Regions from separate parts of the Homo sapiens genome. Here region 2 is linked to region 1. The links come from fine-mapping of genetic effects on gene expression. A gene starts in region 1. The other region holds a variant in brackets. All regions are shown on one strand. Distances are from middle to middle. Region 1 holds the start of NALF2 (NALCN channel auxiliary factor 2). Region 2 has its middle 68 kb from the start of NALF2.

The links. PIP is the estimated chance that this variant, and not a neighbour inherited with it, causes the effect.
Region 2: its variant is the best candidate, but not a certain one, in a credible set for the expression of NALF2 in tibial nerve (GTEx, PIP 0.63).

The regions. Positions count from the first base shown.
Region 1 is chrX:69,502,975-69,505,774 of GRCh38, forward strand. It overlaps NALF2 (NALCN channel auxiliary factor 2), which reads left to right and starts at 1,352. Exons shown (of 3, transcript NM_015686.3): 1 at 1,352-2,800. The coding sequence starts at 2,309. RefSeq lists a silencer at 2,305-2,478.
Region 2 is chrX:69,435,425-69,438,224 of GRCh38, forward strand. No RefSeq gene overlaps it. Among named protein-coding and RNA genes, the nearest start is that of NALF2, 68 kb to the right of the region's middle. The variant G/A (reference allele first, on the strand shown) is at 1,259.

The DNA of each region.
Region 1 (2,800 bases):
CACCCATTTCATTTGATCCTTGGCATCCCTTCGTGTTACTCAGGGGAAAACCAAGACTCAGAAAAGGAAAAGACTCTCAAGGGTACACAGCATATCAGCAGTTGAGTTATTTATCCAAGGCTCTAGTTCATGAATCCTCCCACTAGCCAATATACATGTCTTGTTTCCTTATATAGACTATAATTTCCTTTAAGGAAGGAATGCCTTGGCTCTTTCATCTTTCCAGGGCCTTACTGGAGTGTTAAGAGAATTCTAGAGTCAGACTGAGTTTCTTTTTTAGCTGCTCTGGTTACTTTAGGCAACAACCACACTAAACCTCAGCTTCTTTGTATGTAAATGAAGATAACAGTAGTACCTATCTCATAACACTGTTGTGAAGATTGGATGACGAATGCATGCAAAATGTATAGAGCAGTACCTAGCACATAGTACGCGCTCAATTAAGGCTATTTTCTTTATTGTTATTCTTAACATTAACAAATGCTTGCCGGCAACGGTTGACAAAAAATTACAATGTGAGTTACTGGGAGTGAGGAAGGCAAGCAGACCACAGGGTCAGTGGAGTCCAAACAAGGTTAGTGGCGCGTCAGGATGTTTGTACGTCCGAATTCCTAGTGCCATGTGACTCTGTGAGGGCCCAAGCACATGGTTCCATCCGGGCGGCGCAGCTTCTCTAACTCTCAGTCAGCTATTCTCAGCAGCCTGTAGGGGGAGCCAAAAAGCTAGGACGGGGGCTGGTGCTTGGGTGGGGGGCGGGCGGGTGGGGGGTGGAGGCTGCTGGAAATATTCCTAAGGGCAAACACCGACACCCCACCACTACTATCTTAGCCCACCGCCTTGCCCCCTCCAGGACGCTCTCCAAACTCAGTCTTCCTCAGCAGCTAAGCTGGGAGCTGTCCTTCAGCACCAAGGGCCGCCTTGTCCTCGGGCAGGACGGTGAGGGCGAAGGTGGAGTTAGGGACACTGGACTGGTCCGATCCGCAGCCGGCTCGAGCGTCTTCCAGTCACGGGGACGGCGGAGGCGACCCAGAGAGGCAGCAAGCAGCTACGAGATGCCTGCTGCTCCTTGCCTCCAAGAATCACCCTCAGAAGTCCCCTAGCCCTCGGGGGAGTGAGGGACGGCCATGGAGAGGAAGGCGGGCGCCCGGGTTAGTGGGGGAGGGGGAGCGCCGAGGCCTGGGACTCAGCGTGTGGCATGTGCACGCGGGCAGCGGGCGGATGAACGGAGGCGCTGAAGTGAATGGAGTTGGGGGTGGACTGGAAACATCCCCAAACAGCACCGGCTGCGGCCGGCGGGGGCTGGGGCGGGGTGGGGTGGGGGGAGTCCTGAGGCGCAGGCGCAGTCGGGGCACCAGTCCCGCTCCCTCCTCCTCTCCGTGCCTCTTTCTCCGCCCTGCTCCCCGCCAAACACACTTGCACAGGGGCTCTCAAGGTGTTCTCCGCACAGCGGAAGATGGCGACAGACTGAGGGTGCATGGCCAGCGGGAGCCACGGGGCCGTGCCGCTGGGCTGCAGCCACAGCGGTGCGAACGAGAGGCGGAAGCGAGAGGCGCACTAAGTAAAGCCCGGTGTCTGCGTCCGGCGCCTGTGGCGCTGCCGGGAGCCAGGTGGCCCGCCCGAGCCGGAACTCCAGGAGCAGCGGGTGCGGAGCCAGAGCGGAGCCCGCCAGGGACTGGCCCCGGCGAACACCCGGAGCGCGAACGAAGCCCGAAGGGCCCGGCAACGGACCGGCCGGCCGGCCTAGGAGGGCGCGAGCGAGGCAGGGAGCGGCGTGGAGCGGGCAGCGGGCGGACGGGCGGGAGCGGAGCGGCGCGGGGCGAGGGGAGCGGAGCGGAGCGCGGCGGCGGGGCCCGCACGGCGGCGCTGAGGGGCGCAGAGCTGCGCCGAACCGAGACGGCCGGTTTGGAGTGCGAGCCGGGCGGCCGCCGGCGCGGAGTGAAGTGGCACGGAGCCGAGGGCAGCTGAGGGGCCCGACACTATGAGGAGTGCGGCGCCGCCGCCGCAGCCGCCACCGCCCCAGTGCCCCGCACCGCCCCCAGCCGGGACGCCGGGCAGCGCCTAGCGGGCCGGGCGGCGGCGCCCGGGCTGAGAGCGACGGAGCGCGGGAGCGGCGCGGAGACGGCACCAGAGCGCCCCGCGACTCCGGCCTGAGCGGGGCATCGCGCCGGCCGGCCTGCCTCACCATGCAGCCCCCGAGGTAGAGCCTGGACGGCGCCGAGGAGCGCAGAGCGGCGCGCAGCCCGCCCGCCCCAGACGGCCGTCTGGCCTCGCGCCTGCCTGTTCCCTCCAGCCCGGACCCCCCTGAAATATGTTCAGGGGCGCTTGGATGTGGCCCGGGAAAGACGCCGCCGCGCTGACTATCTGCTGCTGCTGCTGCTGCTGGGCTCCCAGGCCGAGCGACAAACCTTGCGCCGACTCCGAGCGGGCGCAGCGATGGCGACTGTCCCTGGCGTCCCTGCTCTTCTTCACCGTGCTGCTCGCTGACCATCTGTGGCTGTGCGCGGGGGCCCGGCCCCGGGCCAGGGAGCTGAGCAGCGCCATGCGGCCCCCATGGGGGGCCGGCCGGGAGCGGCAGCCGGTGCCTCCTCGCGCGGTGCTGCCGCTGCCGCCGCCGCCGCCCGGCGAGCCCAGCGCGCCCCCAGGCACCTGCGGCCCCAGATACAGCAACCTGACCAAAGCCGCCCCCGCCGCCGGCTCTCGGCCGGTCTGCGGCGGCGTCCCAGAGCCCACGGGGCTGGACGCAGCTTGCACCAAATTGCAATCTTTGCAGAGACTTTTCGAACCGACTACTCCGGCCCCC
Region 2 (2,800 bases), 68 kb before region 1:
AAGAGGTCCTTCACATCCCTTGTAAGTTGGATTCCTAGGTATTTTATTCTCTTTGAAGCAATTGTGAGTGGGAGTTCACTCATGATTTGACTCTCTCTTTATCTGTTATTGGTGTATAAGAATGCTTGTGATTTTTGCACATCGATTTTGTATCCTGAGACTTTGCTGAAGTTGCTTACCAGCTTAAGGAGATTTGGGGCTGAGACGATGGGGTTTTCTAAATATACAATCATGTCATCTGCAAACAGGGACAATTTGACTTCCTCTTTTGCTAATTGAATACGCTTTATTTCTTTCTCCTGCCTGATTGCCCTGGCCAGAACTTAAAACACTATGTTGAATAGGAGTGGTGAGAGAGGGCATCCCTGTCTTGTGCCAGTTTTCAAAGGGAATGTTTCCAGGTTTGCCCATTCAGTATGATATTGGCTGTGGGTTTGTCATGAATAGCTCTTATTATTTTGAGATACATCCCATCAATACCTAATTTATTGAGATTTTTTAGCATGAAGGTTGTTGAATTTTGTCAAAGGCCTTTTCTGCATCTATTGAGATAATCATGTGGTTTTTGTCTTTGGTTCTGTTTATATGCTGGATTGTGTTTATTGATTTTTGTATGTTGAACCAACCTTGCATCCCAGGGATGAAGCCCACTTGATCATGGTGGATAAGCTTTTTGATGTGCTGCTGGATTCAGTTTGCCAGTATTTTATTGAGGATTTTCGCATCAATGTTCATCAGGGATATTGGTCTAAAATTCTCTTTTTTTGTTGTGTCTCTGTCAGGCTTTGGTATCAGGATGATGCTGGCCTCATAAAATGAGTTAGGGAGGATTCCCTCTTTTTCTATTGATTGGAATAGTTTCATAAGGAGTGGTACCAGCTCCTCCTTCTACCAGAGGTACAAGGAGGATCTTTTGCTTTTTGATAATAGCCATCCTAACTGATGTGAGACTGTATCTCATTGTGATTTTGATGTGCATTTCCCTGATGATTAGTGATGTTGAACATCTTTCCATATACCGGATGTCCATCTGTATATCTTCTTTGGAGAAATGTCTATTCAAGTCCTTTGCCCATTTTTAAACCGGTTTTTTTTAATTGAGCTGTAGGGCGTTCTTATGTATTTTGTATATTTTTGTTTGTTTTACATTTGGAATTTAATTTTTATTTTATTATTTTTTGGCTTAAACTTTTTTATTTTAGGTTTGAGAGTACATATGAAGGTTTGTTATACACATAAACATGTGTCATGGGGGTTC[G/A]TTGTATATATTACACCACCCAGGTATTAAGCTCAGTACCCAATAGTTACCTTTACTGCTCCTCTCCCCCAGCCTACCCACCCCCCTCAAGTAGATCTCACTGTCTGTTGTTTCCTTCTTTGTGTTCATAAGTACTTATCATTTAGCTCCCACTTATAAGTGAGAAAATGCAGTATTTGTTTTTCTTTTCCTATGTTAGTTTGCTAAGGATGATAGCTTCCAGCTTCATCCATGTTACCACAAAAGACATTATCTCATTCTTTTTTATGGCTGCATAATATTCCATGGTGTATATGTACCACATTTTCTTTATCCAGTCAGTCATTGATGGACATTTAGGTTGATTCCATGTCTTTGCTATTGTGAACAGTGCTGCAATGAACATTTGCATGCATGTGTCTTAATGGTAGATTGCTTTATATTCCTCTGAGTACATACCCAGTAATGGGATTGCTGGGTCAAATGGTAGTTTTGATTTTAGCTCTTTGAGGAATTTCCATAGTGCTTTCCACAATGTTTAAACTAATTTACACTCCCACCAACAGTGTATAAGGGTTCCCTTTTCTCCGCAACCTCATCAGCATCTGTTATTTTTGATTCTTTAATAATAGCAATTCTGACTGTTGTAAGATGGTATCTCATTGTGGTTTTGATTTGCATTTCTCTAATGATCAGTGATATTGGGCTTTTTTTTTCATATGCTTATTGGCTATGTGTATGTTGTCTTTTGAGAAGTGTCTGTTCATGGCCTTTGCCCACTTTTTAAATGGGGTTTTTTGTTTTTCTCTTGTAAGTTTGTTTAAACACCATATAAATGCTGGATATTAGACCTTTGTCAGATCCATAGTTTGCAAATATTTTCTTCCATTCTGTAGGTTGTCTGTTTACTCTGTTGATAGTTTATTTTGCTCTGCAGAAGCTCATAAGTTTAATTAGATCCCATTTGTCAATTTTTGCTTTTGTGGCAATTGTTTTTGGTGTCTTGGTCATGAAATCTTTGCCCATTCCTAGGTCCAGGATGGCACAGCCTAGGTTGTCTTCCAGGGTTTTTATAGTTTTGGATTTTACATTTAAGTCTTCAATCCATCTTGAGTTGAGTTTGTGTATGGTGTAAGGAAGGGGTCCATCCTCAATCTTCTGCATATGACTAGCCAGTTATCCCAGCACCATTTATTGAATAGGAAGTCTTTTCTCCCTTGCTTGTTTTTGTCAGCTTTGTCAAAGATCAGATGGTCATAGATGTGCAGCCTTATTTCTGGACCCTCTATTCTATCCCATTGTTCCATGTGCCTGTTTTAGTACCAGTACCATACTATTTTGGTCACTGTGGCCTTGTAGTATAGTTTGAAGTCAGGTAATGTATTTCCTCCTATTTTGTTCTTTTTGCTTAGCATTGCCTTGGCTATTCGGTCTATTTCTTGGTTCCATATAAATTCTAAAATAATTTTTTCTAGTTCTGTAAAAAATGTTATTGGTAATTTGATAGGAATAACATTGAATCTGTAAATTGCTTTGGGCAGTATAGCCATTTAATGATATTCT